3 separate regions of the Homo sapiens genome follow, and regions 2 and 3 are each linked to region 1. Evidence: fine-mapped expression QTL. A gene starts in region 1. Each other region holds a variant in brackets. All regions are shown on one strand. Distances are from middle to middle.

Region 1 (8,175 bases):
TAAATAAAACTTCACAGTAATAGAGGAATGTCCACTTCCAGGGCCAAACCGGCTGCTTTCCAGCCAGGGAGCCAGGCCTGGGGGTGTGGGGGCTGCGGGAGAGACTTGCCTGGGGTGGGGGTCAGCAGCTCTGGGACTTCGGGGGGCCAGGAGCGCTGCTCTTCTGCCCTGTGTCGGGGTGGGGTAGGGCTGCAGCCCCAGGGAGATTCTGAGGGGCGCTGAGGTAGTCAGAGCGGTCGCCCTTCCAGACCTTACAGGACACAGCCAGGAGTGGAGGCCCTGTGGCAGAGGCGGCCCGTCTCCAGGCAGGCCTGGGGCTGCGGAGAGCCGGCTGGGCCCTCTCTCCCAGGAGACCAGGGTGTGGACTGGGGGGTGCCTGTGAGCCCGCACAGGGTTGAGTTTCTCCTGCCAGGGCCGCCCGGCCTCTGGGGAGACTGAGGCATTTCACAGAAGACTCTTCCCTGTGAAGACGAGGGGCGGCCACAGACCCATCAGGCCAGGCCTAGCCCAGGTACCTGAGCACAGCGTTCCTCCAGAGGTCACCAGGACCTCCCACCACATCTGAGGGGGCCAGCAACGGACCCAGGTCAGGAGGGCTGCCAGGGCCTGGCGCCTCGCTCCTCAGAGAGGGCCTCCAGACTGGGCAGCTCCAACCGTTCCTGGGCCTCAGTTTCCTAGAATTATCCACACAGGGAGGTCCCTTTCTGGCTACCTGCACCCCACCACACCCAGTGGCACGTAGGCCTCAACCCTCCACCTCCCCTTGGGGACCAAAGGCTAGGCCTGGGCACTGTGGCTCCAGCCCCAATACCATGGGGGCTCAGGAGCAAGTGCCCTGGCCTGTCCTAGTAGCCCGGCTGGGGTCAGAGCACCTGGAGCTTGCGGGAGCAGGTGAGATTGCTGTGCACCAGCCCCCACATGGCGAGCAGCTCAGGGGGCAGCAGCTTGTGCACCACGAGCATGGCGCGGAAAAAGCACGGCTCCTTGTTCATGCGGCTGTTGCGGTTCCGGGAGATGCCGAAAGTCTTGAAGCCCTCGTGGGCCGTGGGCTGCACGCCCAGCACCTCCAGGCACATGCCCAGAAAGACGTCGTCGATCGGGTAGAGCTCCAGGGTGTCGCAGGCATGGTGCAGGCGCCGGGCCAGGCTGCCGGCCATGAGGAAGCCACCGCCGCCTGCATACGGCGGATAGCTGGCCTTGCCGTACAGGGCCCCCGGGATGTAGTATTTGTTGTCTTTCCTGCGAATGGGCCGAGCGTGCTGCAGGACATCGCCCACGAACAGGTTTTCCTGTGGCTGCCGGTCAGCCAGAAATTCTAGCAGGTTGGTGGGGTTGACGAAGACGTCATCGTCGCCTTTGAAAATGAAGGGGACGTGGGGGCAGTAGATGTCCAGCCACTTGAGGAAGTGGATCTCCTTGAGGGTCAGGTTGAAGAAGGTGTCGAGAAAGCCCCACTGCAGGATGTCGCCGTAGAGGCGGTCTTCGTAGGCCAGCAGCTGCTGGTAGTGCGTGCGCTCCTCCTGCTTGGAGGCCGTGCCCAGCAGGAAGAGGGTGCGCACGGCGCCTCGGCCCCCACCCGCGGACTGCCGCTCGCGGCCCCAGGTCTGGCGGATGGCCTCGCGGCGGTCGTGCTGCGTGATGACCGACTTGACAACCACCAGCAGGTAGACATCGCCCCTGCACTTCTCCGGGTGGTTCAGCAGCATGGGGAAGTAGCGGCAGTGGCGGTAGAAGAGAAACTGCCGGAACTGCGGCTCCAGGACCTGGAACCAGGGCTGGTGGGTCAAGTTGATATTGGCTGAGCAGTTAGTGGTGGTCACGTCCCAGGCCTGGGGCCCCTGAGAGGCCATGGGCGTGGGCGCAGCCACATCTTTCGGGTTCTTCCAGAAGTTGTTGGGGTTCACCAGCTGTCCATTTGGCTTCTGGGCCTTCTGTGGCTCCAGGGTGGGTGGCGGAGGCTCCTGCAGAAACTGACCAGGGGTGAGACTGCGTTGGAACACCGTCACGGCCACGAGCAGGGCCAGGGCCAGGCACAGACTCCGGTAGACGGTTTTCTTCCTGTGGGGGAGAGCGGACAGTACAGAGGAGAGAGAAAAGATGAGCCCAGGGCTCTCCTGGCGCCCCCCTTGGGAGGCTGGGTGGTCCCAGACGGGCAAGTGGACCTGGGCACAGGCTCAGTCCCGGAGTCCCTAAGCTGTCAGGGTAGGGTCCCGCTTCCTCTCCCACCCTGCCCTTTCTTTCTCCCACCCTGCCCTCTCCTCAAGGAGCACTGTGGAATCAGGCCCTGACGCTTACAAGCTGAATGAGTGGTTTACAACCACTCTGAGCCACGATTTCTTCTTCCCCCAAATGGGGCTAAAACACAGGATTGGAGTGCTATATAAAGTACCAGGCAGCGGGTGCACAGTTAGGGGAATGCTGTCACCTTAACAGGAGGGCCTCAGGTGGAAACCTCTGCCCTGTTCCCCACGCCTGGAACCCCAATGCCTTTCATTTCCCTGCGGTGTACCTACCCACAGCAGTAGGTATCGGTATCATTAGGTGACTCAGAGCCAGAGTCATTGAGAGGGCACCCTCTGATCCTCTGTGCCGCCCGGGAGCTCCATCACATGTGGGGCACATTGGAGAGTGGCTCGAGCTTGGGACCTGAGGAAGACTGGCCCTCCTCCCCCTTCTCCAGTCTGTCTCACCCAACAAAGAGCAGCCCTCATGGTTGATGGAGGCCCAAGGATGCAGTGAGCACCTCTAGCATGGCACTGCCCCTCACCCCTACCTTAACATCCCCAGCTCATAACACCCCATTAGAAGACATGAGGCTACAGCTCTACTCCCTGGGAGGGGGCACATTTGCAGCTCCAGCCCTTGAGGGACCCTTCTTGCCCAGAGACCCCCCCACCCCAACCCCGGTCCACACCCATTTCGGAAGCAGAAATTAGAGCTCTCTGCCAGGAGTGCTGGTCGTCCCAAGCCCTGGGGCCTGAGCCCCTGTCCTGAAGGACCTCCTCTCTTCATCTCACCCTCCGGGGGCTGCCAGGACACCTGCCCCACCCTCCCCAGTGGAGACCTGGGGGCTGAGAGCTCTGGGGACAGCAGAGTGGCCTTCCAGGGCCAGCCTAGCAGAGAGATGGCGCTGACCTCCAAGGGGGAGGAGCAGGGTGCCAGGAGAGACAGGCAGCCCGTGGAGACGCCTGGGTTGCCCTGAGGGCTGGTCCGGTTGCAGGTCCAGGCCCCAGGGTGAATGCAGGCTGAGCCCCATAGAGCGACATTTTCCCCATAGGGTCCCCAGGTTGCTGGGGCATGTGGTTGGAGGAAGACAGGGGCACCTTAGGTGCAGGCTGGGGGGTGTGACCCAAGGTCCAGCTCTCCGGGGAGGAAACGGAGGGCTCCGGATCCGGCCCTGCCAGCCCTAGGGGTTCCAGGGAAGCCGCCCACCGAGGCCGGGACGGGGGAGGTCGGGGGGTGCACCGGGAAGGCGGCGAGGCCCTGGGCTGCGGGCGCTCCACCTGCCGGGTCCGCTCCATTCGTAGGGAAAGCCCGGGAGGGGCGGAGAGGGGCCGGGCGGGCGGCGGTCCGAGGTCCCGCGGAAGGAAGCCCCGAGAGGAGGAGAGTGGCCCGGACGCAGGGGGCCCTCAGGGGTCTGGAAGGGAGAGGGGACCCAGCTGCCGGCAAGACCTGGGGTCCCAGCCGCCAGGGTCCTGGAGCGGTGTCCAGGGCCGCGGGGCCGGGGAGCTGAGCGCGGCGCCCCGAGACCCCTCGACGTCCCCCACGGGTCCGGGGCCGCGTACCGCGAACATCTCCCGCCGCCGCCGCCGCGCCCGCCCGCCCATCCGCCCCCGGGAAACTGAGGCCGGCGCGGCGCGCGCGGGGGCATCTCCTATCCCGGGAGTCCCGGCGCCCGTCTGTGGCCACGGAGGAGGGGGAGCCCCGGGCCCACGCCCCCGCCCAGGCCCCCGACGGCCCCCAGCCCCACTCACCACAGCGACATGGCGGCCCGGGCCGGAGCGGCGGAGGGGCGAGCGGCTCGCAGCTCTGGGCGCCACGGCTCGGGCCGGCGGGACGGCGGGCGGGTGGGGACGGAGACCGGGCCGCGCCCCCGCCGCGACTTTCCTCTTCCCGGCCGCGGGAGGAGGGGCCGGCAGGGGCGGTGGCCCAGGTGCCTTAACCCCTTCGGCGCCCAGGGCCCGCCCCGCCGCCGCCTGGCGGGGACCACCCCATTTCTCCGAGACGGCCCCTAGGCTCCCCAAGCGCGCCTAGTAGACAGTGCATGGCCGAGGCGGGGCTTCGGAACCCACGGGGGTCACCTCCAATCCCGGGGACGCCTGTCCCTGGCGGAGCCTCCCGGGGCGGGGGGAGGGCGGTCGCCGGTCCCTCCTGTACTTGTGCGAAACCTGAACACCCGGTCCCCTCCAAGACCCTGGGGCACCCCAAGGCCCAGCCATTTCCCTCTGGCCCCATTCGGACTTGTCTTTGGGGCCAGAGGCAGACAGGGTGTCCTTTTCTCCCTCTGCTACCTTCTGCCCCTGCACCTTTCCCCTGACCAGACGGACCCCTTGCCCAGCTGTTGGGCTACCTAGGGCCAGGAGCAAAGCCAGCCACTAGGGAAAGAGGCCGTATGAGACTGGGCTCCATGTCAGGACTCGCCCAGGCCTGTGGCTCTGGAAGCTTTTTTTGTGCCCCCACCATGTCCCTCTCTTCACCTCTGGGGTTCCTCCCACCTCTGAGGGCTCCCCACCACCAAGGGAAGGCCTGTTGGCCCAGCCCTATCTCCTTTCTTTTTTCACTTATCACTCAAAACCCTTTTTGTCCTCAAGCCTTTATTAGTCTGCTTGTGCACATCAGGCCTAGCGGCTCTGGGGAGTGGGCTGACAGAGAACACGGAGAGGGCTTGGTCCAGCCAGGTGACTTCCAGAATCCTCCAGCAGGGAGAGCCATCGCTGGTCCTGTTGTTGCTCAGGTTGTTCTGGTCTTGTTCCGGGTTGAGGTTTCGGTGCTTAGCATCCAGCAGGACCTCCAAAAGGCCCACAGAATTGAAACGGAAGCACGTTGTGGTCCAATCATAACAGCTAACGTCCACTGAGCAGCTACAATATGCCAAACCTGGTTCTCGGCCCATGCATGACTGGCTCACTTAATCCTAGAGACATACGCTATTATTCCCACCTTACAGGGGAGGAAACGGGGGTGCAGAGGGGAACTCCCAGCCAGCTCAGAGAACAGCGAGCCCAGAGTTAGTAAGCACATCCAGGAGGCCTGCATGGCCTGAAGGCTGGCTCTGAACCCTTCCTGCCTGGTCTGAAGGCTGGCTCTGAGCCCTTCCTCAACCTTTTTTCCTTTCCCAGGGACAGCAGTGACATGGAGCTACTTTCCTGCCCAGCACACAGGGAGGCTAGGAGTCCTCAGCTGGATCTTAAGCCCTCGAGGCCAGGGTGAGGAGCCCCTTCTGCCCTATCCTTAAGGTTCAAGGGCCCTTTGGAGGGGGAGGAGAAACTTAAGGTACCATAGAATGTTCTGGAATGTTGTAAGTGCCAATTAGGGAATGTGAAGGGCCTTTCAGGCAGAATTTCAGAGGAGTATCTTGGGGCTGATGTCCTTTGTAATGGCCCTCCAAAAGTTCCAGAGCAGGGGAGGGGCTGACCTGCAGCCCAAAGCCCCTGTTGGCCTGGCTGCCTGCCACTGAGGGCCACCCGCAGATTCTGCAGCTCCACGGCTCCCTTCATCCCAGTGTAGCCTTGGCCACCGGTTCCCGCAGGGCACCAAGCATTTTGCTCCACTGCCCAGCCTTCCGAGTTCCCCACTTCACCCTGCAAGTGTGGCCCTGGCTTCCCTGGCTCCACACAGGTGCCCTGCTGAGAGCTGCCTCCCTGGCTTCAGCACTGACCTCTCACCCGGTGCTGTGGGGTCTCCTCCTCCTGCTGAGGGGTGGACACAGCCGTCCCTGGGAAGGGGGTTTTGAGCCCATGTTTGGGGATGGCAGGCATGGGCGTTGGGTCAGAGTCTTGCACTTCCTGGTTGTCACTGGGGGCAGGTGGCTTTTCCCCTTGAGACCTCAATTTCCTGCCAGCTCAGGGCCTTGTGAGATGACGCCAATGAAGCACAGACATAGGCATCCCCTATGTAAAGAACTTGGTGGCAGGCCGGCTACTGTTAGTGTTATCATTGATGTCCAGCTACTCCACAAAGCCCCAGAAGCACAAGGGCCAGAGGAGGTGGGAGCAGAGGGAGCTGCCCAAGGTCAGCGGAGTGTTTGCCAGTGGAATCTGGTCAGTTGAGACAGGCAGTTTGTCATCATGGAATCATTTGATCTGTGCCTAGTTTGAATTCAGAGAGGGGAAATGAATGACAATTAAATGCGAGTCCCTGATGGTGGGGTGGGGGTGGGGAGTGTGGAGCCGGGCCAGGCTCGGGTCAGCCTCCCCTGTTACTCCAATGTGCTCCCCTGTGGGGCAGCTGGGCCAGTCCCTATGGCAAGCACAGTGGTCCCCCCACCGCCAATCTGGCCAGTTCCACCTGCCCCAGCCAGAGGGCAGAGCCCCAGCAGATTCCTGTGGATTTAAGCGAGGCCCTGAGGAAGGCAGGCCTGTCTGCGATGGGATCTGCCTACCTGCTGTCCCCAACCCTGGCTGAAGGCAGAGCCCAGAGGTAGAGGGAAGTTCCAGAGTGGCAGATACCAGGAGAAGAGGGTGGGTGACGGATGAGCTGGCTGCATAGGCTGCAGGAGTCCCAAGCCAAGGTGGAGGTGGGTTCTGTGTCCTTGTCACAAGGCCACTCTGTGCACCTCAGGTTGCTCCCTTGGAGGGGGAAGCTCGTGAGCCAGGACGTTGGAGGACCCCAAGAAATGCCCCCTTCCCCAGTACATCTTTTGGCCCCTCAGCCCATCCCTACCTCCACCTCCACTTTCTTTTATATCCCACCCCTTCAACCTTCCAGAATAGGTTGGAATCCGACCCTGCTGGTAACCCCAGCACAGGCCTTTGCCCAGAGGCGAGGGCTGCAGAGACCCAAGGGTGGGAGTATCTGACTGGCCAGAAAACACACTGGGTCAGTGGCTTGACTGGACAAGGTGGGGGCCAACTTGGGTCAGAGGGACCCCCAAAGCAGAAGGTGAGGAGTCTTGCGTGCCTTGCAGAGAGGTGGCCATCGTGGGGCGAGAGCGCGGAGCCCAGCAGGGGCCACGGGCAGGCAGCTATGCTGGCTGTAATCGCCTCAGTGCTGCTGTGATTTTGTGAGCGTGTGAGTTAAACTTAGTTGGTGTTTTTGAAAGACCCTGAGCAGCAGTCTACACTCCAGGGGCAGCCACAGCCAGCACTTCAAATGTGGTTGTCTACTGTCACAGCAGAGGGTCTGTACATTAACACGGGAGGGTCGGAAATCATTGTTCTGTAGTAAAAAGAGTGTTGCTGAAGATGTGTGCCTGGGAAGAGGCACCGCAAGTCCCCTCTGCCTGTGCCTGGGCAAGTCCAGCCACCAGCAGGGCAGTGCCCCGGGTCTAGAACTTTCTCTGAGTGGTTCTGGGCCCCCGCAGGTGGTGCTCTGACTGGAGGTTAGCTAGTCATGGTGAGCATGTCCTTGAATTCACCCTGACAAAAGCTGTTGTGACAGGACAGAGTGAGACTTCCCTGAGCTTGTGGGCAGGGGCAGGGTGTCTGTTTCTGTGCTTCGTGCTAACAGATGTTTCCAGTAGGGTAGCCGTTGGGTCTGAGAGTTGATTTCATTATAATATGCCACCCGATGGGGAAGGGTGGGGTGAGACCTACGCTTTCTCAACTACCTCTGGTCCTTGAAGGCCACCAATATCCTCTGCAGAGAACCTGACCCATCCTGCAGGGCAGTGCAGGAGGGACCTCAAGGCTGCTGAGTCAAGGGGCTCACTACCCAGACAAGCACTGGGGGAGTGCCCCCAGGTAAACTGATGTCTCCCAGAAATGGCTCCTGTGTGAAGCCAAGGCAGTGTGTGGATCTAGGGCAGGAAGGGAAGTAGGGATGGAAAATGAAAAGGGAGAACACATTTCCCTGGGGGACAGGTCTTCCTTTGAAGGGGTGGGAGGAGGAGAAGGCCAGGATGGAGCAAGCAGCGAGGTAGGAGGAGATGACCGTGTCTTCAAGGTGTGGGTGGTCTGGAGTCTGGGAACTCCCCTTGCCCAAGGGAAGACTGGGCCAGAAAGAAGCCCAGATCAC
Region 2 (8,157 bases), 21 kb after region 1:
TGGTCCTGCCCCTCAGGGCCTATAAGCCACTGGGACCCTCTGCCTGGCTTCTCCCTTGAAGACGGTGCTGCCTGAGTTGAGGCCTGACTTGGCATAACTTGGAAACTTGCTGGTCAGAGGGTGGCACCCTGTATGCCCCTCCCTTCCAGCCTGGTCAGTGATCCCTACTCCAGGCTGTTTGAGACCCAGGCCACACTATCATGTATCCAGTGAACTCTTCCCCCGCCGGGAACTGGTGACTCATCACTGAAGACTTGTGACAAAGAGCAGCTCCACACCTGTGCACACTTGGGGCAGGCGTGTTTCCAGAGGCCCAGAGGGACAGCGAGAGCGTGAGCAGCAACACTGTGCCAAGCAGGAAGGTGTCCAAGTGACACCCAGGACAACTGGAAGAAGCCCTCGGTGATCACAGAAATGGGGAGAGGCTCTGAGCCAGATGCTGGAAGGTGAGCTGACACAAGTGCTTTGGGCCAGTGCGATCCCTGAGGACCTGTAGAAAGAGATTTGGGCAGAGTCAGCCGCTACCTCTCCATCGTGCATGCCACACCCTTGGCTTTGCTATTTCAGGGATGCACACTGCCTTGCTTCCTCTAACTCTCCCTGACATAGTTCCTGATCCACCCAACATCCTGCCTCTGAGGCTGCACCGTCTTGCACGGCTTCTGCCAGTGGAGTGCTGGTAAACATTTAATAACCGGCTCTTGGGGGTGGGGGCTAAAGCTCTGGTTTGTGGTGCTTGCCAATTTCTGTGGTGTAAATACCCCCACCATGGCCAGTTTCAAGCTACCAAAATGATGTCACTGAACACAGAGCTGGGAAGAGATGTCCAGCAGCCTTTGTTAATTCTGTCATATTTCCACCATACAGATGCAACAGATGTGAATAACCTCCAGGACTGAGGACAGTGGATGCAGGAAAATCCTTAGGAAAGGATGTTTTGAGTATTTATTCCCTTTGTTCTTAATAGAATTTATTTTACTGTAAGTTTATATAACTTAAGTTTTGGTAATGGCTATGTTTAAAAGCAGCTCATAGAATTCCCCCAAACTGGGCCGGGCGCGGTGGCTCATGCCTGTAATCCCAGCACTTTGGAAGGCCAAGGTGGGCGGATTATCTGAGGTCAGGAGTTCGAGACCAGCCTGACGAACATGGTGAAACCTCGTCTCTCCTAAAAATCCAAAAATTAGCCAGGCATGGTGGCACGTGCCTGTAATCCCAGCTACTTGGGAGCCTGAGGCAGGAGAACTGCTTGAACCCGGGAGGCGGAGCTTGCAGTGAGCCGAGATCGCACCATTGCACTCCAGCCTGGGCAACAGAGCGAGACTCTGTCCTAAAAAAAAAAAAAAAAAGAATTCCCCCCAAACTTAGGAATCAGCTCTGTGAGCTGTCCCAAACTGGCCACACACCACTGCCTCCTGCCCAGGGGCCAGAGGAGAGCCTGGTGGACTCCTTGCTCCCCAGCACCCCTCAAGATCACAACTTTGAGGCCTTTGCTCCAGCCTCCCTTCTTAGAGCTCATGCCACCACTTCCCTGTCTTCTCTGGGTCTCCCCTCTGACCTCAATGCCTTTGGCATCCAGCTCACCGCCTTGACGGGCACTGGTGCAGGCTGACCTCTGGCCAGTGCTCTAAGGAAACTGCTCTCAAGCTGGCCTTAGCCTGTTATCTTCTTCCCCACCTCCTCTATAGCCCGACCATGGTGACCGCCCTCCATCCCCTGCTTTCCTCCCTGGGTTCCAGAGCTTGCATCCTTAGTCCTCCCCCTGCATTCCAAGTCCTCCTCCCTGCATCCCTAGTCCTCCTCCTCCTCCTTCCTTGAAACTCCTGCACCTGCCTATCGGGGAACCTGCCCCAGTAATCACATAGGTTCTTTTCTATTTTTCCTAAGCGTCGGCCGGCTTGAGAAATAAAGGGACAGAGTACAAAAGAGAGAAATTGTAAAGCTGGGTGTCCGGGGGAGACATCACACGTTGGTAGGATCCGTGATGCCCCACAAGCCACAAAAACCAGCAAGTTTTTATTAGGGATTTTCAAAAGGGGAGGGAGTGTGCGAATAGGTGTGGGTGACAGACATCAAGTACTTAACAGGGTAATAGAATATCACAAGGCAAGTGGAGGCAGGGCGAGATCACAGGACCACAGGACCAAGGCAAAATTAAAATTGCTAATGAAGTTTTGGGCACCATTGTCATTGATAACATCTTATCAGGAGACAGGGTTTGAGAGCAACCGGTCTGACCAAAATTTATTAGGCGGGAATTTCCTCCTCCTAATAAGCCTGGGAGCGCTATGGGAGACTGGAGTTTATTTCATCTCTGCAGCCTCGACCATAAGAGACGACCACGCCCCCGGGGGAGGGGGGCCAGTTCAGAGACCCACCCCCAGGTGTGCATTCTCTTTCTCAGGGGATGTTCCATGCTGAGAAAAAGAATTCAGCGATATTTCTCCCATTTGCTTTTGAAAGAAGAGAAATATGGCTCTGTTCCGCCCGACTCACCAGTGGTCAGAGTTTAAGGTTATCTCTCTTATTCCCTGAACAATTGCTGTTACCCTGTTCTTTTTTCAAGGTGCTCAGATTTCATATTGCGCAAACACACATGCTGTACAATTTGTGCAGTTAATGCAATTATTACAGGGTCCTGAGGCAACATACATCCCCCTCAGCTGACAGGATTAAGAGATTAAAGTAAAGACAGGCATAGGAAATCACAAGGGTATTGACTGGGGAAGTGATAAGTGTCCATGAAATATTCACAACTTATGTTTAGAGACTGTAGTAAAGACAGGCATAAGAAATTACAAAAGTATTAATTTGGGGGAACTAATAAATGTCCATGAAATCATCACAATCCACGTTCTTCTGTCATGGCTTCAGCCAGTCCCTCCGTTTGGGGTCCCTGACTTCCCACAACACCTGCTGTCTTCTTTCTCACCCCCGGGTTCTGTCCCCAGTTTCCTATTTCTCTAGTCCCCCTTCTGAGATCCCATCCACCCCCAGGCTTTAGTAGACACCTTAAGATGACGACTCTGGATAGGGCTCTGTAGCCCTGACTTTTTGCTAATTTTGCAACCATTTCCTAGAAACCTGCCTGATGTTTCAACCTGGGGCTGGTGCTCCGGCCTGGACCATGCCATCCGAAAAGGCCAGAAATTCTCCCTAGAAGATGGATGGCAACTTGAAAGCCAGTGGGACCATGTCTCCACATCTGACACACTGCAGCCCCAAAGAATATATTTGTTCAATTGAATCTAAATGGAGAGGGTATACCACAATGGAAAAACAGCCCTAAAAGATTTGGTCCTGCAAAGCTCTGAACAGCATCTATGTGGTAGCTTGCAGCAGTATTGCCTCTGGTTCATTCGGGGTCCCTGTATCCACATCCTTTCACACAGACTTGGGCCTTGGCCATGTGGTCTGCTTTGGACAATGGGAGAATAGTGAACGTGATATGAGACTTGGGCTTGATTTCTCTAACTGCCATGGGAGCCCCGAGGCCACCATGTGAACAAGCCTAAGCCAGAGGAGAACCAAGGGCTCAGCCAACAGCCAACTACCAGACATGAGCGAAGCCCCTGACTGCCCTCTGACCATAAGACATAGTTGAGTTCAGCCAAGCCCAGCAGAAGAATCGCCTGTCCGTGCCCAGCCCCCATCACTGATCCAAATCATTATAAAGCTAATACATTTGTTGGTTTAAGCCACTAAGTTTCAGAGGTAGTTTGTTAATATGCAAAAGCTAACCTAATCACTTCTTAGAACAGCACACCCCAAATAGTATCTGGAGAGATAAAGCTAGGCAAACAGGCACACCACCAGCCCCAGGCTGTGCTATCAGGCACTGTGGGAGGGACAGGAGGATCCCCCAGATTCTAGGCCAGGAGAGAGGGGTGAGGTATTCACCTTGCATACAAAATTTAAAGGGCTACCCCAAAACTCAGTAATGAAGACACATGATGTAATATTTTAATGTAATATTTAAAAAAAATCAAATTGGTATCTCTGGTCCACGTCCCAGCTGCCTATTTTGTAAATACAGTTTTATTAAAACTGGGGCTGGGATTAGGGTTAGACAAGCCAGGTGGGGTCATCCAAGTACAGGGCCAGACTTGTTTTTATTAAAAAGTTTGATATTTTATCATGGATTTCTTTTCTTTACCTTTTCTTTCTTTTCTTTTTTTTTCATGAACCTTATTTGTTCAACTATTTTATTTTTATTTTTATTTTATTATTTTTTTTTTAGCTCTTTTGATTTGGGCCAAATCTTTCCTCACCTATTGACTAATCTCTGGCATCTCACTGGATCTCAAACCTCCACCTGCCTATTAAAGTCCCCACCACAGGTCCTAATTTAAGCTCTTGCCAGACAGTTCCACCTTGCTGTGAATGCAGAAATGAGATCAAGTCCCACTCAGAAGAAACCAGAAGATGTGAGGTAACCAGAGGGGCGGCTCAGCCTCCAGGGCAGAGGAGCCATAATCTACCTGGGGCCTTACCATTTTCCAGAAGGTCCAAAGATCCCTCTCTGTGGCTTCCTTGGTAGTTTTCAAGGGCAAACCTTAGGCGCCATCTGCTTGGATCTCCATCTGGAGATCTGGCCTTTAAACAGGTTTACTTGTGTTTTAGATTCTTTCCCCTTAGACTGGGGTCATACCCATCCTCAGCAAGCTCATTGGAGCTGGTAGATAGTTGGAATATTTGTGAATAAGTTGTTGGTATTTTACAAAGTATATTTCTAGCTGTCAGCCTTGGAATGCAGAGGCGTGAGCCCAGGAGTGTACTCTCCCAGGGCGTGGCGCAGAGGCCTGGGTGATATTTTCAGCACTTTCCTGGAAGAACCACACATACCCCACCTGGTAATCTCAATGTATTTTTTTTTTTTTTT[TG/G]ACGGAGTCTCTGTCGCCCAGGCTGGAGTGCAGGGGCGTGATCTTGGCTCACTGCATCTTCCATCTCCCGGTTCAAGCTATTCTTGTGCCTCAGCCTCCTTGAGTAGCTGAGATTACAGGCACCCACCACCACATCCAGCTAATTTTTTGTATTTTAGTAGAGACGGGGTTTCGCCATGTTGGCCAGGCTGGTCTCGAACTCCTGGAGGCCTCAAGTGATCCATCCGCCTCGGCCTCCCAAAGCACTGGGATTACAGGTGTGAGCCACTGTGCCCGGCCTAATCTCAGTGTATTTTGACCCTAAGTTGGATACTCCCCACTTCTCTAAAAGACTATCTTTTCTTCTCCTCAAACCATCAGACATCTACAGATCAGACTTTAGCTCTTTGGTAGGCTTGAGGGAAAAGTAGTGGTTGACTTCAGACGAGGGAGACACTGACCTGACCCCGATGATTCTCCCACCCCCGCTGGACTTCTGCTGCTCCCACACCAAGGGCGGGAAAGGCTGTGCCAGCCAGTGGCATCTGAGGAATCCGTAGGGGAGTGGACTTCTTGTGGGGAGCAAGAGAGATTTTTCCATTCCACTCCTTTGCTGTTTGTCTGCAACCACTCTACACCTTTTCAAAGTCTCACCACGGAGGAGTTGCATTTTGCGGACCCTCTGCTTTTCCTCTGTCTGCACCACTGACACCAGGGGCGAGCTTTGTGTTTGCTCCCAATGCCTCCGGGTCAAGTGAGGAGTTCAGAGAGGGCCTGGTGGCTGACAGGTCAGGACGGCAGCCTTCTTCCCTGAGCACAGAGTGGACACATTTCCAGAGAACCAAGAGGTGGCCACCAGGCCAGTCACATGACAGCATCTAATGTGCCCAGCCTGGAGCCGCTGCCAAGAATTCACGAGATGAACCAGGGTCCCGGCCCTGGATGAGCTTCTGGTCATCTCATGGGTAACCTGGCCTCCTGTTTACCTCCTCTGCCTGCGCTCCTGAGGAGTCAGGGGGCCATGGAAAAATCCAGCGCTTAGCCTTTATTTACGACCATTGGGACCAGAGATGTCCCCATTGAAGGGTCTGTGGGCAGATCAGGTGCCTGGGGGAGGGCACGCGACTTTTCTCTGCTTTCCATTTCCCTTCATACACTCATACACACACACACACACACACACACACACACACACACACACACACACACACACACACCACTAAATACTGATGGGTTTTATTTGATTTTAGAGCTTGGGTAACATCCAGGACACCTGTGACTTGCTGGTCCTGAAGGCAAACATCCTTCCTCTGTCCTAAGACTGGATTCTGATGACAGCCCTGGTGAGGGGCGTGCGCAGGCCTCCCCCGCGGGATGGGTCACTTTGCTGGTAGAGCTGTTTATGTTTATGGTCCCAGTGCAGGGAGGGAGGCAGAGGGTGCTCCCTGGTCACACTGGTGGCCTTTTTAAGGCCTTCAAAAAACGTGTGCAGAAGAGCAGAGCTTTGAAGAGGCTGGAACACACCATATTCTCAGAATTTTTTTTTTGGGGACGGAGTCTCGCTCTGTCACCCAGGCTAGAGTGCAGTGGCACGATCTCGGCTCACTGCAAGCTCCGCCTCCCGGGTTCACGCCATTCTCCTGCCTCAGCCTCCAGAGTAGCTGGGACTACAAGCGCCCGCCACCACGCCCGGCTAATTTTTTTGTATTTTTTTAGTAGAGACGGGGTTTCACCACGTTAGCCAGGATGGTCTCGATCTCCTGACCTCGTGATCTGCCCGCCTCAGCCTTCCAAAGTCCTGGAATTACAGGCGTGAGCCACCGCACCTGGCCTTCTTTCTCAGATTTTAACACAGGAAGAAAACACCAACTTTGCTGCTGAGACGCAGGCTTGAGAATAAAATGAGCTTCACCCTGAGTTCCTTCTGGGTCCTGGTAGTCAGCCCAAGTGAGGAGGGCTGGCTTCAGCAGCCTTGGAAAAGCCCTGCTCCAGGCTGGCCCTACACTGTCGCCCTGTTGGGGCCTGGAGGGCCAGGGCTGCAAATCCAGCACCTGCTGTTTCTGGGGCCAGAAGATCTCCTGCGGGCAAAAGCCACCCCTCTCCTCTGTGTGTGAAGGGTGAGCAGGAAATTCCCCTCTCCAGGAGGGCAATGCCAGGCTCTCCCCAGCCCTCCTTGGTGGCTCTGCCCTGGGAGAAAGTGACCCGGCTGGCGGGGCTGCGATGGCCTTGCTCTGGTGCTGCCTGGAGAGCCGGCCTCCCCTCAGCTCCCAGAGTCTTGTGGACAACTGTCCCTTCACATCCATCACCGGCAGCTGCTGCCAGCTGAGAGCGGGAAGCTGGCTGGTCCTCCGGCAACGTGATGGGGACACCCGGGGACATCCTTACTTCCTGTGAGACTGGCTGCCTGGAGAGAAAAGCCAGAGCAAGATGCCAGTGCTGTGTGGTCTCCGCACAGAATCCCCTCTGTCCCACTCAGTCCCTCTTTCAGCCGGCTCAGAAGCGAGGGAACCTTCCCTCTCCCAGGTCACCTGTTCTGTGGCCTGGGCTCGACTGGCGGGCCGGCTCTTTCCTCACAGGAAGCAGGCTGCTTGGTGCGGGTCACTCAGTCAGCTTTGCTGGCAACAGCTCACGTGTTTGTTGAGCCCACAGGACACACAACGCCCATGGCTGGCTGAGCTGTCCACACCGTGGCCACGCTATGCTGCTAGATGTGGGGCCAGGCCAGCCACCAGCTGCTGGTGTCACTGTTGCTATGACTGGGGATCCCTGCCCCAGTGGCACCTTCCTCCTGGCCGAGCCTCCCCTGGATTTGCTGCACCTCCTCTGCGCCTGACCTGGGCTGCGACTGGCTGGGCTGGGGTTTTGGGTGTGTTTCCCAGTGGGAAGTGGGAGGGGTCCCAACCTGGCTCCCCAGCCATGGCCATTACCCCCACTTCCAACCCAGCGTGTCCCCAGCTGACCAGAGCGCCCAGGGCCTGGCCAGGAAGGTAGTAGGGTGGGGCGGGCTGGGGGCGGCCAAAGAAATGCGCATATCCTAAGCGGGACTCCTTTCGTCCTGCCTGGCCTTTTGTTCTGTCCTTTTGTTTTCCCTGTGTTTTGGTAAAGCCCTCTAGAAAGGTTCAGCTCAGTTGGGGCGTGGAGGTGGAGGGGCTATCAATTGGCAGAGGCTGGAAGGGGACAGAGAAAGACAAAGAAGTGGTCCTTACAGTGAGCCTCAGGTGAGAGGGTGAGAGAGAGGCCCCAGGGAGAGAGTGGGGGCCCTTGGGCCCATCCCATCTTCAGGCCCTTCTGGCGG
Region 3 (8,175 bases), 30 kb before region 1:
CTCTTTCTTCAATACTACAACTGTAATGTGGTATGATAGTGTTGTAGGAGTTAAGAAATTATTTTAGGCAGATAAGAGAGGAAAAGGGGTCCCTGGGAAGTTTTCGTTTTTAAAGCAGCTCTTAGAGCCAGGCCGGCAACCTTTGATATGCAAATGAAGGCCATTAGAAACTGGGTCCACCCAAACATGGCGATTCCTGCGAACTTCTTGCCCTTGCCCCACATGTTCCTGGCAACATGGCCACCCCTACATATCCCCATGTGTGTAGAACATCATGGCACCCTGCGTTTGCATATTAAAAGGCTAGGGTGGGAGGGCCAGCTTTTTCACGGGCTGCATGAATGACATGCCTGGTCAAACCAATCCCCTGAGCCCTATGCAAATCAAACACTGCTTCCTCCAGCCTCTACATATACCTGGCTGGTATCCACCACACTTGGGGTTCCCTCTTTGGACTTTGGAGCCCCCCTCCTTCTGTCTCTGTATGGGGGAGCTTCTTTCTGTCTTCTCCCTTTCTTCTTGCCTACTAAACTCTCCGCTCCTTAAAACTACTCCATATGTGTCCATGTCATTCTTTTTTTTTTTTTTTTTTGAGATGGAGTCTCACTCTGTCGCTCAGGCTGGAGTGCAGTGGCACGATCTCGACTCACTGCAACCTCTGCCTCCCTGGCTCAAGCGATTCTCCTGCCTCAGCCTCCCGAGTAGCTGGGATTATAGGCATGCGCCACCACACCCAGCTAATTTTTGTATTTTTAGTAGAGACGGAGTTTCACCATCTTGGCCAGGCTGGTCTGGAACTCCTGACCTCGTGATCCACCTGCCTCAAAGTGCTGGGATTACAGGCGTGGGCCACCATGCCCGGCTGAGCCTGCCTTCTTGTTTCAGCTCTCACACTGTAAACATGTGTCCTTTTGGTGGTCTATTTAGTGCCACTTTTTTTTTTTTTTTTGAGACAGAGTCTCGCTCTGTCGCCCAGAGCTAGAGTGCAATGGCGCGATCTCGGCTCACTGCAACCTCTGCCTCCCAGGTTCAAGCAATTCTCCTGCCTCAGCCTCCCGAGTAGCTGAGACTACAGGTGCGTGTCACCACACTCGGCTAATTTTTGTATTTTTAGTAGAGATGGGGTTTCACCATGTTGGCCAGGCTGGTCTTGAACTCCTAACCTTGTGATCTGCCTGCCTCAGCCTCCCAAAGTGCAGGGATTACAGGCGTGAGCCACCACGCCCAGCCAGTGCCACTTTTTTTGTATTTTGTGCTTTTTGTTGCTGGTTTTCTTGCTTCATGTGGCCCCCAAGTGAACTGCTGATGAGCTTTCTGGTGCTCCTAAGAGCAAGAAGGATGTGATGTGCTATAGGGAGAAAATCTGTGCGTTGGAGAAGCTTCATTCAGGTGTGAGTTATGGTGCCGTGAGTCCAATATTAATGAATCAGGCTGGGCGTGGTGGCTCATGTCTGTAATTCTGGCACTTTAGGAGGCCGAGGCAGGAGGATCACCTGAGGTCAGGAGTTAGACCAGCCTGGCCAACATGGTGAAACCCCATCTCTACTAAAAACTACAAAAAATTAGCTGGGCATGGTGGCACATGCCTGTAATCCCAGCTATTCAGCAGGCTGAGGCAGGAGAATGGCTTGAACCTGGGAGGCGGAGGTTGCAGTGAGCCAAGATCATGTCATTGTACTCCAACCTGGGCAACAAGAGTAAAACTGCATCTAAAAAAAAAAAATTAATGAATCAACTGTATATTAACTTCAGTGTCTTTAAACAGAAACAAACATAAAAAAAGGTTATGCGTTGGTCGACTGAGGAAAATATTGTGACTAGGCCGGGCATGGTGGCTCAAGCCTGTAATTCCAGCACTTTGGGAGGCCGAGGTGAGCGGATCACTTGAGGCCAGGAGTTTGAGACCAGCCTGGTCAACATGGTGAAACCCCATCTCTACTAAAAATAAAAAAAATTAGCCAGGCGTGGTGGCACACACCTGTAATCACAGCTACTTGGGAGGCTGAGGCACGAGAATCACTTGAATCCAGGCAGTGGAGGTTGCAGTTTGCTGAGAATGCACCACACACCACTGCACTCCAGCCTGGGCAATAGAGTGAGACTCGGTCCAAAAAAAAAAAAAGAAAGAAAGAAAATACTGTGACCAGACCCTCACAGGTACCTAAGGAGGAACCTAATTTCTCCCAGGAGCAAAGCTTCAACATTCACTAATCCAGTGTTTGTGGTGATTTTATAGAACATAACCACCACGAATCAGGAGCATGGGCTGTACCTCCTGCTGGTTGTGTTTCTCTGGTTGCGATCTGACTGATATAGTGACAAAGTCACAGAACTGCTAATACTATTGTGGTTTTTTGCCACTACCTTAACAAATTTTGAAGAAAAGTTAAGGGTTGGTGAAAACAAAGATGTCTATTTATTCCCATCCATGCATATGAGTCCCCTGAATGCTCTCTGTGGACCCTGTGGGCATTCGTGGACCCCAGGTTAAGACCACCTGCAGGTTAACAGAGGATAATGCAAAGGCCCACACCAATCATGGTGAAGGGTGGAGGTAGCAATGTTCCCACAGGCTCTGAGGAAGCAGTGAAGCTGGAAGGCCCCACCGGGGAACTGGAGGCTGAGGGCTCAGCAGGCCTGTGGGCTCTGCTCCCCAGCTGAAGACACGGTACCCCTAGTTCTTCCTTAAGCTGTGGTTGCCCCAAGCTAGATCCATCCGAAAAAACCATGGCTGCCTACGGGTGTTGAGGAAGCGTTGTTTGCAAGGGCTGGGGTTTGCCCCAGTGGCTCTGAGGCCTCTCCCTCTCCTTGCACTAAACTCAGACAATTCTGTTCTTCTCCTATTATTCTACCTGTGATTTTAAGTGCTCCTCGTATCTGCACAAACTTACCCCCATCTCTTTTTATTGAAAAAGCAAACAGATCCCCTGATTCTTTGGGTCTGGGATGATACTTTGGCTGACTATCTGTGCCCTCCACCCACTACACCCTCCCAGAAAATGAAATTAATCTACTTAGGTTCATCACAAAGGTGGGCTGGTCGACCCAGTGGCAGACCGTCCCGCCCATGTCACCATACCAAGCGCCCTTCTGCTTCAGGTCCTGGGAGGTCAGGACTTCCTGGTGTCATCCTCAGACGGCGGGACAAGGCTGGGGCTGGATTCTTCCTGTCTGGGTTCACCTCCAATTGCTGGTGCTTCCTTAAGCACAGCACTATTGCCCCCATGTTTATGAACGGGAAAGGATACTAATTAGAACCAGCCAAAGGAAGAGACACAGGGTAGAGTCCAGGGAGGGTCCTGATGAGGAGCTGGCAGCCACCGGTGTGGCATCACCTCCTTCTTGCTGTGATGTGTGACAATTCGCAGAGTACCGCCAACGGGTGTGGCATCACCTCCTCCTTGCTGTGATGTATGACAATTCGCAGAGTACCGCCAACCACGGAAGCTTCCCCGGGCTTTGATGTCAGAATTTGTGTTGCAGTTTCCCTCTGTGGGCAGGGTGATGGAATCATTGCCTGTGAGGTTGAACTGGGTCTCTAGCTTGTTTCTTCGCCCCGGGGGTTGCTCTGACAGCTCTCGCCCTCAGGGGCCCATCATGAGTCACCTCATTAGGGTAACGGTAAACCATCAGGTGTGGTCTTCCAGGAGCCAGGACAAAGGCACAAAGGCCAGATCTCTCTGGGGAGAGGGAGCGTGTGAATTGCTTAGTACACAGCTCCTGACTTTAGCCTCCTGCCCCTCAGGCTGGTGCTTCCCCAGCTCTGACTACACATTCTGCTTTGTGAGTGATTTTACGAGTCTCACCTGGCCTGGAACTGGCAATGGGGAAATTGCTGAGGCAGGTGGCTGGCTCCAGGGCCTGGCTTGAAGATGGGCAGGAAGGCACTTACACTGCCCTCTCATGAGCCCCCCGGTACCCCCTTACAGCCCCAGACCCCAGTGATGTTCAGGCTTTTGGAGCAAGCCCTGTTGCTTTCTGCAACCTCTGTGGGTGGACTCGGACTCCTGACTGGTCACTTGCGGAAGAGAAGACCAGCGGCTCCTCTC[C/ACTCC]CTCTCGCAGGAGACTGAAGGCTGCCACCTCTGAGACCTCCTACCCTTTGGCTCCCCTTCTGGGAACCATGTGAAAGTGGCTGTCATGAGCCACATCCTGTCCAGCTGAAGTCCTGCTTGATGTTGGCAGAGGATGTGGTCGTTCAGAGCTGGGAGGACAGACCAGACACCAAGCAAGACCAAGAACTCTCCACTATTTCTGACTCTGGATGAGCGGGGTGCAGGGTCTTGAGGAGTAACTGGGGAACGGGACTGCAGAGACTACAATTCCCTCAGGGAATGTGGCTGTGGGATGAGAGTAGGGACACAGCTGAAGAGGTTCATGGGGTTGAAGGAGTTTCTTGTTTTTGTTTGTTTTCAACACGTAAAAGTCTTGAGCCCATTTAAAAGGCCATGGAGCTAGGCGCGGTGGCTCAGGCCTGCAATCCCAGCACTTTGGGGGGCTGAGGTGGGCGGGTCACATAAGGTCAGGAGTTCGAGGCCAGCATGGTGAAACCCTGTCTCTACTAAAAATACAAAAATTAGCTGGGCGTGTTGGCAGGTGCCTGTAATCTCAGCTACTTGGGAGGCTGAGGTGTGAGAATCGCTTGAACCTGGGAGGCAAAGGTTGCAGTGAGCCGAGATGGCACCACTGCACTCCAGCCTGGGCAACAGAATGAGACCCCGTCTCAAAAAAAAAAAAAAAAAAGAAAAGAAAAGAAAAGAAAAGGCTATGGAGAAGGATTAGTGGAGCAATGGATGTTGACCACAGAAGAGAGACAGTGGTCCTAAGCGCTTGGGAAGGGTGGGCTCTGAGACTCAGGTGGAGGCAAGCAGGGGATGGGTCTTTTGTTTTTAAACTGGAGGTGCTCTTCCCACGAGTCCTTCCACGTGCTCTTTGAATTAAAAGGCAAGGTCATCTGATGAAAAGAGGGGAGATGTCAGAGTCAGAGGTTTGAGAAGTGCAGAGGTCTCAAATGTGCCCAGGAAACATGGAATTAGACCCAAGTCCACACGATAATTCAGTACGTAATAAATCTGCCACTTCCACTGGTGTTGGCGTAACTGGAATACCATCTGCCTAGAGGAAAAATTATATTAATATCTTTTTTTTTTGAGACAGGGTCTCACTCTGTCACCCAGGCTGGAGTGCAGTGGTGTGATCATGGCTCACTGCTCCCAGGTTCAGGTGATACTCCTGTCAGTCTCCTGAGTAGCTAGGACCACAGGCACACACCACCACTCCTGGCTAATATTTTTAGACTATTATTTGTAGAAATGGGGTGTCACTATGTTGCTCAGGCTGATCTTGTGCTCCTGGAATCAAGTGATCATCCTGCCTTGGCCTCCAAAAGTGCTGAGATTACAGGCATGAGCCACCACGCCCAGCAATACCTCATGTCTTATATTAAAATACATTTCAGGTGGATCAAATATGTTAATGTAAAAAGTGAAATATGACAGTACTAGAAGAAAATATGGAAAATTTATTTTATAACTTAAAGTTGGAAAGAGCTTTTTAAATTTAATTTTTATTTATTTATTTTTTCCAAGACAGAGTCTTGCTCTGTTGCCCAGAGCTGGAGTGCAATGGCGCGATCTCGGCTCACTGCAACCTCCGCCCCCCAGGATCAAGCAATTCTCCTGCCTCAGCCTCCCTAGTAGCTGGGATTACAGGCATGCGCCACCAGGCCCGGCTGATTTTTGTATTTTTAGTAGAGACGGGGTTTCATCATGCTGGCCAGGCTGGTCTCAAACTCCTGACCTCGTGACCCACCCGCCTCGGCCTCCCAAATTGCTGGGATTACGGGTGTGAGCCACCACGTCCAGTCTTGTTTTTAATTTTTAAATTTTCAGTGCTTTTTGGGTAGGAGAGGACTTTCTAAGAATAACGACATAGTACCTAGAAGCCATTAAGGAAAAGATGGAAAATTTACATTAAAATATCACTGTATCACAGAAAAATTATGAACAAAGTCAAAAGATAGATGACAAATGGAAAAATATTTTCAGTGCATATCAGATAAATGTCTTTAATGAACCCCTTCAACAAATAAGTAAAAGTCAATCCCATTTTAGTAGGTGTCGCAATGGAAAAAAAGACAAAGACAAAGACAAATAAGCCAATAGAAAAATAGGCAAAGGATATGAACCAACCGCGAAGCAGGCTCACCGTGCGCGGCTTACCAACTTGTCGGCATCTGGTGAGACGGAACACACTCACATGTACCCAGTTACACGATGAGGATTTATTACAGATTGGCAGCAAGGGGCAACAGAGGCCTAGGATTCATTCAGAGCCAGTTCCCCAGGCTCAGGCCAGCTGCCCAGGGCTGATGGAATCTTGACTTCATGCGTCCCACCTGCACCATGGCTGAAGAACCCTGAAAAGCAGCCTGCCCTGAGCTTTATGCTCTGTGAGTGGCTGAGCTACAGTGTTGAAGGACACCCTGTTTCTTTTCTTTTTTTTTTTTTTGAGACAGAGTCTCGCTCTTGTTGCCCAGGCTGGAGTACAGTGGTGCGATCTTGGCTCACCGCAACCTCCACCTCCCGGGTTTAAGCAATTCTTCTGCCTCAGCCTCCCGAGTAGCTGGGATTACAGGTGCCTGCCACCATGCCTGGCTAATTTTTTGTATTTTTGGTAGAGACGGGGTTTCACCATGTTGGCCAGGCTAGTCTTGAACTCCTGACCTCAGGTGATCTGCCTGCCTTGGCCTCCCAAAGTGCTGGGATTACAGGCATGAGCCACCCTGTTTCTAAGGCGGAACTGGAACAGAGCCTGAGCAGTTCTGGCCAGCTCCCCCTTATCTCAAGATGTTGCATTTCTAGCACATTCTACAGTTAATTTTCAGAACTACAAGCAAGAAAGATGGGAGAACCGGGCTGGTTTAAGGTCACCTAGAAAATTGTCCTGTACAAATCTTTCTCAGGAAAGGAAATATGAATGATTCAAACACATGAAAAGATGTTAATGTCACTCAGAGTAGGAGAAATGCAAATTAAAACAACACTATGTGCATTTTCTTACCTGTTAGATTGGTGATGATCACCAGGTTTGCTGACACATTTCATGTACCTGCTGTTTGGGACAATTGCCAGGGAGGGTGAGTTGGGAATAGCTAGTTATCTGTTATGGACTGAGTTGCATCCCCTCAAAATTCACACGCTGAAGTCCTAACCTCCAGTACCTCAGAATGTGACTGTATTTGGAGACAGGGTCTTTAAAGAGGGAATTAAGTTAAAATGAGATTGTTAGGGTGGGGCCCTAATCCAATATGACAGATGTCTTTATAAGAAGAGGAAATTTGGACACATACACCCATAGAGTGAAACTAACTCTGCCAACATCTTAATCTCAGACTTCAGCCTCAGACTGTGAGGAAATAAATTTTCCGTTGTTTAAGCCACCCAGTCTGTGGTTCTCTGTTATGGCAGCCCTAGCAAACTAATACACCAGCAACCTTGAAACTGACCTGAAAATTTGACTTCTAGTAACTTATACTACAGATAGACTGGCATGTGTTCCTGGCATGTGCAGGATATGCGAGGGTATTGTTTGTAGCAGTCAGGGTTCAATCAAGAAAACAGAAGCCACTCTAGGTATTTTGAGCAGAAAGAGAAGCATTGGAAGGGCTGGGAGAGGAAAGGCCAGGAAAGTTCTAGAAGTTAGGAGATGGCAGGGAAGTCATCACCAGTGATCCTCGGTGCTGGCAGGGCCAAAGCACATGATGCCCAGGGGGACACCTGGAGCTGCCGGAAGCTGTCACCAAGGATCTCAGGCTGGTCTCGAACTCCTGACCTCAAGTGATCCGCCAGCCTTGGCCTCCCAAAGTGCTGGGATTACAGGTGTGAGCCACTGTGTCTGGCTGGATCTCAGCTGCTTATAGCACTGCAGTGGGGGTCATGCAGGGTGATGCCCAGAAGCCGAGGAAAGGAGTCTGCCATGAGTTTTGCTGCCTAACCATAGTAGCTGCTGGAGACCAATGGCTTCTGCTTCCTTCATGGGCAGAATTCAGCCTAGGACATACTGGAAAGGGGCTCTGGAAATGCAGGGAGATGTAGAAGGGGATGGGAGTGATGTTACATTAACAAGGACTGATCTAGCACCGTCCATCCACAGAGGCTGGTTAAATACACCATGGTTTGT

Alleles and levels. Positions count from the first base shown, and alleles are read on the strand shown. Sizes are in standard deviations (SD) of each study's normalised expression. Not every link is listed here.
With allele ACTCC in place of C in region 3, the expression in NK cells of the gene that starts at base 4,079 in region 1 is lower (large effect, 0.86 SD a copy in Schmiedel 2018).

What was found. PIP is the estimated chance that this variant, and not a neighbour inherited with it, causes the effect.
Region 2: its variant is fine-mapped to the expression of B3GNT7 in whole blood (INTERVAL, PIP above 0.99).
Region 3: its variant is fine-mapped to the expression of B3GNT7 in NK cells (Schmiedel 2018, PIP 0.93).

What each region holds. Positions count from the first base shown.
Region 1 is chr2:231,391,614-231,399,788 of GRCh38, reverse strand. B3GNT7 (UDP-GlcNAc:betaGal beta-1,3-N-acetylglucosaminyltransferase 7) reads right to left here and starts at 4,079. Exons shown (of 2, transcript NM_145236.3): 1 at 3,975-4,079; 2 at 1-2,058. The coding sequence starts at 3,985. The coding sequence ends at 864. RefSeq lists enhancers at 134-679, 680-1,227, 2,468-2,537, 1,480-2,679, 4,948-4,997 and 4 more and a silencer at 3,928-4,397.
Region 2 is chr2:231,370,622-231,378,778 of GRCh38, reverse strand. It overlaps ARMC9 (armadillo repeat containing 9), which reads right to left. Exons shown (of 25, transcript NM_001352754.2): 25 at 1,931-7,266. The coding sequence ends at 7,244. Among named protein-coding and RNA genes, the nearest start is that of MIR4777, 12 kb to the right of the region's middle. RefSeq lists enhancers at 2,027-2,590, 7,146-7,793, 7,794-8,157. The variant TG/G (reference allele first, on the strand shown) is at 4,883.
Region 3 is chr2:231,421,449-231,429,623 of GRCh38, reverse strand. No RefSeq gene overlaps it. Among named protein-coding and RNA genes, the nearest start is that of B3GNT7, 30 kb to the right of the region's middle. The variant C/ACTCC (reference allele first, on the strand shown) is at 4,050.